2 separate regions of the Homo sapiens genome follow, and region 2 is linked to region 1. The links come from fine-mapping of genetic effects on gene expression. A gene starts in region 1. The other region holds a variant in brackets. All regions are shown on one strand. Distances are from middle to middle. Region 1 holds the start of PSMD6 (proteasome 26S subunit, non-ATPase 6). Region 2 overlaps ATXN7 (ataxin 7).

Region 1 (5,384 bases):
AAATTTTTACAATGACCACGTCTTAAGTTTACAACCAGAAAAGAGAAAAAAACCTCGTTTTAGATATACATTGCAAAACAACATTTAGGCACTTACTATGTGCTAGGTACCAGTCTAAGCTTTTTCCTATCCTTAATCCACATTAAGTAAAAACTATCAGTACTCCTGTTTTACACATGAGGAAACCGAGGGTTTCATAAATCATAATTACCGAGGTTGAAAACAGAACCCAGACAATCTGATTCAAGAGCTCATGTTATTTTTATTTTTTATATTGGCACCATGTCATTCTATACCTAAATACTTCCAGGCAAATAATTTAAAATTAAAAACATTCAAAGCCCATTTTCTTAACCACTATTACACAGTTACTCAATTAAATTTCAAAGATCCAGTAATGGTGAGTACCCCTCTGGTGCCCTGATGGTGGAGTAAGCTGGCTGCTATGCAGAACAACTGGCCACACATATTTAAAAAAAAGAAGAAAAAAAAAAACTGTTCATTGTCCCGGCGATTTTGTTTCATATACTATACCCTAGAGAAACACTAGCATATACACACAGAGACATACATAAGCATATTTTTACAGCAGCAGTTTGCTAAAGCAAAAACAGATGAAAACAACACATATGTCCAACAACAGCTGAACAGGCAAATAAACTATGCCAGAGCTAGCTCTACAGTGGAACATTAGGCAGCAGTTAACCAGGATGAGCCAGATTTATGTATGTTGGCATGGAAAAGACCTCTTAAATATAATGCTGAATGAAAAGGGCAAACAGGACTACACTAATACACTATGATCCTATGTACTTAAAAAAAAAATTCTGTAGAATTAAAAATTTCTGCAAGTATTAACTTTTTTAAAAATTGGTTCTTTCATTGAGCATTTATATTCTTTTACATATAAAATTTTACGTAAAAAAGATTTTATGACCGGGTGCACTGGCTCACGCCTATAATCCCAGCACTTTCGGAGGCCGAGACAGGTGGATCACCTGAGGTCAGGAGTTCGAGACTAGCCTGGCCAACATGTTGAAATCCAGTCTCTACTAATAATACAAAAAAATTAGCTGGGTGTGGTGGCGCACGCCTGTAATCTCAACTACTCGGGAGGCTGAGGGAGGAGAATCGATTGAACCCAGCAGGTGGAGGTTGCAGTGAGCCAAGATCACTCCATTGTACTCCAGCCTGGGTGGCAAGAGTGAAACTCCGTCTCAAAAAAAAAAAAAAAATTACCAAAAAGTTTGCATAAATGCACAATAAAAGAACTGAAAAGCCTATCCCTGGGCAGGTACAGAGTAAAGAAAGATAACAGAACTTCAGCATTTACTATACTGTTTCTTAGTTTCTGCTAAGTATTACTCGTGTAAAGTACTAAAGACACCAGAACCAGTGCTTCCCAACCAAGTGAGAAAACTGCTGAAAATGATCCCAATTTTGTAAAAGCAGTAAATAAAATTCTCTAGATGTACACTTACGTTTTTATCGGCATGGGGTGAAATGGGGAAGAATACAGCCCTAGCTGCTGTTTGGGGAAATGACAAGGCATTTCATGGAGACGACTTTTTCATCTTTACATTGATTCACCAGTACAAGCAAGCATGATTACCTTTATACTTTTTCTAAAACGAAGTTAATTTTTTTAATGAGAAACGATTACCTGGAATAGTCTCCAATTTTAGCCTATACTAACTACAGAGAGGGAAAACCATCTCTACTCACTTTGTCACCTATCCGGCAGAGGTACTCGGCCTTTGCCATCATTGCATCGCGAATTTCGCTCTCTCCTAGATTCTTCTCTGCATCTTCCAGCTCCTCATCCAAACGCTTCAACTCATCTTCATTTGCCTTCTTCATTTTATTGAGTAGGTCCACGTCTATCTGCCAGTCGAGGGATTTGCACAAGGCTTCATAGTAAGGAGCCATGTCTAACATGCAAAAAGAGGGATGTGTGAGTGGGGACACTTGTGCCCTCAAGTCAAAGTCTGCCCACGTATTTCACCCCCCGCCCCGCCACAAGTCATCCACCAGTCTCTTCCCCACTAACAGGAAGGCATGCGATGGCGCTTAATAATCGGCTTGGCAAAACATAAACGTATGCTGGTGGGAGGTTTGCGTGACGGCCAATCCTGGCAATGCCAACCTCTACTAGGGCTGGAGGGAGGGCAATCCTCGGTTTGCTCTTGCCGGATTCTGTTCCAAAAGTCTTCAAACAGGGAAAGACTTTTTATACACACATACTCACATACATATGTTCAAACATACACATTCACTACAGAAGGGCCAGAAAGAACCGAACCCAAATTTCCCTTCCACAGGCAAGCTGAACTCTCCCACAGGAATACCCCGCGCCCGGGAGCAGTCCCCACTGACAGAAAGTCACGGGGCCTTTACTCTGTGCCTAGCACAGGGGTAAATATTAATGCCTCACGATTCTCCCCCAAGCTGCCCTTACAGGGGAAGGCGGCACAGAGAGATGCAGACCCCGCTGAGGCAAGTCGAGGTCCCCCAGGGTATCCCCAAACCAAAGCAAAACCCTAAGGGCCGGAGAAGCCAGGCCTGGTCTCTGAGACCCCGTCAGAGGGGTCTGGAGCTCCATCAAAAAAAGTCCCCGCAGGCTCCGGAACGCGGGGACGGCCCAGGCCTAGGCCGCTGACTCGGCGCTCGTGCGGGCCTCACTGTTATCGCGGACGGCCGCCATCAGCTCGTCGCGCACGGCAGCGTCTCCGCGGTGCTCGGGCAGGCTGAGCAGGAAGCGCAGCTGCGCGATACGCAAGTCGGGGTTCTTGGGCAGACCCTCCTCCTCCAGGTTCTCCAGCGGCATCGCGGCGAAGGGGACAGCGGCTGACAGGACACAACTTGGTTACGACCGGCTGCGGCAGCGGAAGCGGGAGGAGTCGGCGAATACGCCCGGCCGCCTGCGGCCCGGCTTCCGGTCCCGTCTCCGCCGGCAGCGTCCTCTGCTGGACACCTCCGGGAACGCCTCACCCGGCCTGGGCGCCTGCGCCCCTGTGTGGTCACGGGGGCTTTTCCACCCTCAAGGCCCCCTGCGGAGTCCCAGAGTGGGTGCAGCCCAACTCAAAAGCCCAATTTCTTGAATCTCTTTCTCACTCCCTTTTTAGCTATTTTACTTTCCGTTTGTAACTGATGGGAGCTTAAAATTTTTTGAAAACTGAAAATGTAATAACAGCATTAATAAAAACAATCACCATAGTTTGTCGAGTCGTTACTCTCATTCATCTTATTAAAATCATCTTCATGCTGCGAGGTAGTACTATTAGCCTATTTAGTAGGTAAGACAAATGAGGCACAAAGAGGTTAGGGAAACAGACCAACCAAGGTCATGTAACAGCCATGTCGCAAGGCCTAAATGAAAACCCCTATCTAGAACTCTAAAATCCACATTCTTTCTGCGGTTTTAAGAAGAAAAAAAAACTGCACCCAGGATTCTACGTCATAGTACAACAGCATCATCGTTTTGTTTACACATAAATTAAATCATTACATGCCTGCATTTTCAGCTTCCTTTTGTTCACATTGCTACAGATCTTCAGAGGTGGTAATCTTTACATTAAATTCCTTTTTTTTTTGAAACGGAGTCTTGCCCTGTCACCCAGGCTGGAGTGCAGTGGCACAATCTTGGCTCACTGCAACCTCTGCCTCCCAGCTTCAATCGATTCTCCTGCCTCAGCCTCCCAAGTAGCTGGGATTACAGGCCTGCACCACCATGCCGGGCTAATTTTTGTATTTTTAGTAGAGACGGGGTTTCACCATGTTGGCCAGGCTGGTCTTGACCTTCTGACCTCAAGTGATTCCCCCGCCTCAGTCGTCCAAAGTGCTGGGATTACAGGTGTGGGCCACCATGCCTGGCCTAAATTCCATCTAATGGATTTACCATAATTTACTTTCACTCTTCCCTCTGTTAGAGGTGTCTTTAGGTTGACCAGAGTTTTTACTTACCTAATATAAAAACTTGGATGAAGACTTTGGATGTCTAGATCACTTCATGTTTTGCATCTTTTTCCTTAGCATAAAATCCCATGAAGGAATAACGGACAAAGGGAAGAAGGATTTTGTGACTTGGGGATATTTAATGTTAAATGGTTTTCCAAAAGAGCTGAACCAGTTTACACAGCTGCTGAAACAGGTGAGACTGCCACATCTCACAGGCAGTAGGCATCATCACATAATTTAAATCTATTATTTGTTTCTATAAAAATGAAACAAGCATTTTGAAGACAACTCAAATGATAGAGAAAATATGAAGAGTAAAAAAAAAATACTATTAAATAGCTCTCCACCACTGCTAAACTTTTGGTAAAAAACTTTCTAAAATTCTTTCATTTAGTCATTCAACAAACATGATTGCATGGTTACAAAGTACCAGGCACTGTCTTAGGCCTCAAGGACTCAGCAGTGAAGAGCACAAAGCCCTGTCTTTGGAACTTACATTCCAGAGAAGCATAGCTTCTTTAAAACTCATCTGGGTATATTAACATGATCATTCTATACTCGCACATTTTAAACTGTGTTTTATTCATTCTACCATGTATTGTGGATATCTTGGATGACAATGGATTGACCATATAGGATTCCATTATATTTATTTCTGTTTGTTTGTTATTTTTGAGACGGATCTCACTCTGTTTGAGACGGATCTCAGGCTGGAGTACAGTGGGGTGATCTTGGCTCACTGCAACCTCCATCTCCCGGGTTCAAGCGATTCTCCTGCCTTGGCCTCCTGAGTAGCTAGGATTACAGGCACGTGCCACCAAGCCTGGCTAATTTTTGTATTTTTAGTAGAGACGGGGTTTCACCATATTGGCCAGGCTGGTCTCGAATTCCTGACCTCAGGAGATCCGCCCACCTCAGCCTCCCAAAATGCTGGGATTACAGGTGTGAGCCACCACACCCGGCCCATTATATTTCTATACCAACTTTTTCTTCATCAGTCCTTAAGTGCTGGTTGATTTGGGTTATTTTTGTTTTTTTCAATCTTATTAATATTACAGTGTCACTTATCCGTGTACATATATATTTTCACACTTAAATAGTTATTTCTCAATCTAAATCTCTAGACGTGCAATTGCTGAATAAGAGGGCATTAATATTTTATATTTTGATGTATTCTGTAAGTATTTTATGAATTATTTTCCACAAATGATATATATATCAATTTACATTGCCACTAATATTGAACAGAGAACCTGCAGGGGAGAAAAAGTAGTATCCTTTCTTCACCCATTGCGAGGTTCATAGCTGAGGCACCTATAATAAAAGATAGAATAGCAGGGCCAGGAGAGGTGGCTCACACCTGTAATCCCAGCATTTTAAGAGGCTGAGGCAGGCAGATCACGAGGTCAGGAATTTGAGACCAGCCT
Region 2 (5,384 bases), 74 kb before region 1:
GAGGCCCCATACCTTGACCTTGGGCACTGGCAGTGGGAGTGGCACTGGCATAGAGGAGGTGATTCTGGGAGAATACTGGAAATTGCCAGGGGTGTTATGAGTCTAGCAGACCTGGGTTTAAACCTTGGGTGTGCTATATACTAGTTTGTGAGATTTCAATCCTGTGTGCCTTAGTTTCCTGACAAATAACAATCATGACTTTTATCTCATAGACTGTGGGCAAACATTGAGTGAGCACTTCCTAGGGCCAGGTGCATTTCTAAGACTGGCATGTAGTAGCTCTCTTAGTCTTTCTGTCCTTTGAAGTACCCAGTGAAGTAGGTACTATGGTCATCACGGTTCAATATGTGAAGAAAATGCTGGCCAGGCGCAGTAGCTCACACTTGTAATCTCAGCACTTTGGGAGGCCAAGGTGGGAGGATCACTTGACCCAGGAGTTTGAGACCATTCTGGGCAACATAGTGAGACCCCTGTCTCTACAAAAAATAAAACAAAATTAGCTGGGCGTGGTGGTGCACACCTGTGATTACTCCTAGCTACTCAGGAGGCTGAGGTGGAAGGATCGTTTGAGCCTGGGAGATTGAGGCTGCAGTGAGCTGTGATTGTGCCACTGCACTCCAGCCTGGGCGACAGAAACCTTGTGTCTGGAAAAAAAAGTGATAATTTGAAGAGATTGTATAACTTGCCCAAGGTCACGTTTCTTTTGATTGAGGGAACCAGGATTCAGAGTGATACTGACCCACACTCTTAGCCACTCTGCTTAAAATGCCAGTGATAGTAACTAACTGGGGAGGGGGAAGGAACAGCCCTTTGAAGTGGTGACAGCTGAGCTGAGACCTGATGTGTGAGAATACACCAGGCATCTTGTGAAGTGCAAGCATAGAGTCTGGCTGGGGAAAAGGTTTCTGGGTTTGAGGAGAGAAGGGAGGTCAGTGTGCCTGGAGCAGAGTGAGCCAAGGAGAGAGAAGTGGGGAACGAGGGAACAGAGGATGAGAGGGAAGTGCAGGTATATCTGGCAGGACCTTGGGAGCCAGGGTAAGGGCTGGAGTTCTATTCCAAGAGGAGTAGAAAGCCACTGGAGAATTTTAAACAGGGGAGTGATGTGATCTGGTGGGGAATTTTAAAGAATCACTCTGGCAGCCTTGTGGAAAGGTTTGTAGACTACTTAGGGGACTTCTTCCAGAGTTCATTGAAAGGGTGCTGGTGGCAGGCCCAATAGTGGTGGCCATGGCAGTGGAGAGAAGTGGATGAAGATTTTAGGATAGAACTTAACTGGGTGTGCTAGTGGCCTGAATGTGTTGAGGGACAAGAGAGTTGGAGGTGACACCTGGGCTTTTAGTTTGAGCTGTTGGGGGATGAATAGTATCATTTACCCAAAATGGGGAAGGTTGTTGGGTGAGGAGCAGAGAAGGGTCAAGAGTGAAGTTTTGGACATGCTTGTTCTGTTTGAAATGTATATAAGACATCTAGATGGTAATGTCTAGTAGGCAGTCTGGTACGTGAAACTAGACAGAGCTTGGGAGCAGTCGGGGCTGGAGATAGAAACTTGTGAGTGGCATGTAGAAGTTTGGGATGCGTGGGAAAAGGGAGACACGCAGGGTACTGGGCAGGTTAAATGCTTTGCAGTGCCATTCAGGTTTTCTTGTTACTGAACAAAGTCCTCAAAATGGAGATAGCAACACCAAAGTAAATACATTCACCACAGTTTGGGGTATGGTTTCTAGCAGAGGGACTTCATTCTGCATGTGACTGAAGTTTCCATATACATGTGCTCAAGTGTCCTTGTGCTTAAACCTAATCCTCCCTAGTATGCTGGCCTGGGGTCTCCAAAGTACATGATGGCCTAGATGTGGGTGCTGGCCCACTCACTAATTGGAACATAGGGGTGACCTAAATCCTGAGAAAGATTTAGGGCTTACACAACAATAAAATCCATTCTTTCAAATTCGTTTAGAATCCATTAATTCAAGTACAATTTTTAAACTTTATGCTCAAGTACATAATTAATGGCCTAAGTTGTATATTACAAGTATATTTTGTAAACTTTTTAATTGAATAATGAATTCATTTTTATTAATTTTATATTTTTATTTTCTGTTGTAAATCAAGCTTTTCACAGCATTTGAGCAAGATCCCTATTTTAATTTGCAGACGGGTTGATTGTGAATTTATGCTTTAAAATATTTAGGAACATACATACTGTCTCTCACACACACATTATTTCATTTCTTTCTGTTGCCACAACATTCCACACTCTGTTCCTGTTGCTAAGGCCCCTGGAATGTCCCAGAGCAGAAAAAGAATATAGAATTCCTTTTTTTTTTTTTTTTCCTGAAGAAGCATTTTATTTAAATTATTTTGTATCCTCTAGTTTACTTCCAAATATGGATATCTGAAAGTGAAGAATTTAGAAAGCTAAAATTAAAGTTGCTTTACGTTTTCATAAAATGAACTCAATTTCTTTTTCTTTTTGTGAGACAGAGTCTCACTCTTTCACCCAGGCTGGAGTGCAGTGGCGCAATCTTGGCTCATGGCAACCTCCACCTCCCAGGTTCAAGTGATTCTCCTGCCTCAGCCTCCTGAGTAGCTGTGGTTACAGGCACCTGCCACCACACCCAGCTAATTTTTGTATTTTTAGTAGAGACAGGGTTTACTATGTTGGCCATGCTGGTCTCGAACTCCTGACCTCGGGTAATCCGCCTTCCTCGGCCTCCCAAAGTGCTGGAATTACAGGCATGAGCCACCGCGCCTGGCCCAGGGAGCTCAGTTTCATAGGGTAGAATGAACTGGGTTTAAGTATACCATGTTTCTTCCCACAGAGGGGGTGTGTGTGTGCATGCTTTTTAGAGAGATTCAGTGTGCTCATGAGAAATTAAGAACCGAGTTTTCCGGTCACACAAACCAGAGTCCTGGTTATGCCGCTTTCTTGCTGAGTGATATTAAATAAGTTTGTTTCTCCATAAGTAAAATGGGGATTATTATGTAGGGTTATTATTAGAAATAAATGGGAAAAACCATGTAAGAACTGCTTGGCATAGGACCTGGCACATAGTAGTCTCTCAGTAAATGTCAGCTGGTTATCATTATAGTCATCATCAGTTGCAATTGATCTTAAGTTATTGAGGAAATAGAAATTTTTACAGAAGTAT[A/G]GATTCTTGGTTCCTTACAGGATAACCCCTATCTTTTTAGTTTTACTAGTCCTAAGTCTCAGAAAAGGATCAAAGGAACCAGGGCAAAAAAGAATAATTTTGTACATGATAAACATCATGTGACAAATTGAATCCTTATTATTTGAAAGGATCAGTTTAGGTTTTTATTTCTCTTAATTGCTTTATTTTTAAAGGGGTAGAGGGTTAGTCCACAGAAGAATCTGGTATCTGGCAAAGTGATCTATTTTAAGCAACAGTGCTTTACATTCAGAACTGAGGGAAATCACAGAGACCACCAGCAGCACATTGCAGAGACCTAAAACTAAACTAACACTGTTTATTTAATACTGTTTTAACTGCTATCTAATAATAAAACTAATTGAGTTGATTTCATTAATGAAATTGTTCATTTGATATCTATCTCACACTCTTCAGTTGTAAATTATGAATGTTATACCAGTTCTGTAATTTAGATGTATCAGAGGCATTTAGCACAGAAGCATATGGAACTTACGGTAAATGACTTTAAATTTTATTTTTCAGAATGAAATGTCATGTCAAGAAACTGTAATCTTGGAAAGTGACTTATTACATGTATATCATTGCATAGATATAACCTTTCCCCTTCTCCCACATGTACTATATTTAACTCAATGTGGGCAGGCTTTCAGGGAAAATAGCATATTGTTTGGCTCTTATTTTTTATTAAATAAGCGTAGTCACAGAAGTCTGTAGTCTACTGGAAGCTTCTTATCTAATCAGTTTATACCATCAAAGATGGTCAGCCCTGACATTCCAATTTATTGACATTGGAATCTGGAAGGACTCTCTAGATATCATTATTCCTCTGGTCTTCAAGAGGTAAGAAATCCAAGCCACATTATAAGTCAGAATTGAATTCCAGCTATTGACCTTAGACAAAGTACTTTACCTCTCTGTGAGTCAGTTTTCTCTTCTTTAGAGGGGGGATATAATGATGTCTACCTAGGTAGTTGTGAGGATAAAAATGAAATAATAGCTTGTAGAAACTACTCGGTGCTGCAAGTACATCCCCAAATCGTGCTAGACTCTAGTATATTTCGGATTATAGCTAGCTATCTGTGCAATTCAGTGTAATAGAAACTGTTTAAGAAAATTCAAGCCATAGCCATGTGTAGATACTAGATCAGTAATTTGATATTTTAGAGATTATCCTCACTTGACATCTCCTTAAGGAATTTTCTTCTCCCTTTAAAACCACCAGGATCTCCCCGGCTGGAGAAAGTGTGAAATTAAATCTTCATAGGAAAGAAAGTAGATGCTAATCAGCTTTTTGGATCTTCCCCCTTGTCCTTTAAACTTGGTATTTGATCTACTAAAACTTTTGCTTAAATTGAAGTGTGCTAATTATCCATTCATTGCAGATATTCTAAAGAGTGAATGTAGTGTAAAATGCTGTTTAAAATCCACTGATTTTGAAATACTTAAAAAGTTAGATTCTGGATCTGAACTTTTAGCTCTGTTCCCCAAATTGTTGTTCATAATTAATTGAATGGTTGAGATGTTTTAGTTAACCATATTTACCAGGTATCAAGTTACTTTCAGTTTTCATGTATATGCAGACAGTTTAGTTTTACTTTTGCATTTAATTAAGTTGCTGTCTTACTGTTAAAACAAACAAACAGCTCGTATCCTACCCTATTTTGGTAACCAAACTGATTAATATATGAAATGCTGTTTGTACTAAAGTTCATTCTGCCTTTCTGGTGGCATTAGTATGTAAGCAAAAGGACTAGAGGTTGCTATGACTTGGAAAAAATATATTAAAATAATTTTCTTTATATGACATGCTGGCAAACCAGCAGTTCTATTCCTCTGTCTCTGCTCCCTTTCTTAATTGTTCCATAGAACTCAGGAACCAGAGAGCTGGAATAGAATGCACAGTTAAACAAAAGCATTAGATGGTACAGCTTTGTGAACTAAGCAGTTTACATGGTTGCAGATTCTTTCCCTTAACTCTTGGTAGAGTTCATCTAATGTTGCTTTATTGTGCAAATATATTCATTGTTTGCATTTTAAAAGATTGTTTCACCACATCATAATTATTTTTGGTGCACTTTAACCCTTTTTAAAGTGTGTCTGTAAGCCTGATTTGATTTCTCTGTTTAATAGTGGTGGTGTACCACATCAGTTCATTTGTCCTGGTATACTTTACAATAAGGCAACTCCTTTAGAAAGTAGTTTCCCAAAATGGTT

The links. PIP is the estimated chance that this variant, and not a neighbour inherited with it, causes the effect. A credible set is the group of variants that fine-mapping cannot tell apart.
Region 2: its variant is the best candidate, but not a certain one, in a credible set for the expression of PSMD6 in whole blood (INTERVAL, PIP 0.68).

The regions. Positions count from the first base shown.
Region 1 is chr3:64,020,593-64,025,976 of GRCh38, forward strand. It overlaps PSMD6 (proteasome 26S subunit, non-ATPase 6), which reads right to left and starts at 2,902. Exons shown (of 8, transcript NM_014814.3): 1 at 2,683-2,902; 2 at 1,726-1,931. The coding sequence starts at 2,827. It overlaps LOC105377121 (a long non-coding RNA gene), which reads left to right and starts at 3,483. Exons shown (of 3, transcript XR_940906.3): 1 at 3,483-3,559; 2 at 4,033-4,150. RefSeq lists enhancers at 2,204-2,826, 2,511-2,860, 2,827-3,448 and a silencer at 3,011-3,110.
Region 2 is chr3:63,946,943-63,952,326 of GRCh38, forward strand. The region is part of intron 4 of ATXN7 (ataxin 7); the gene reads left to right. Among named protein-coding and RNA genes, the nearest start is that of PSMD6-AS2, 54 kb to the right of the region's middle. The variant A/G (reference allele first, on the strand shown) is at 3,150.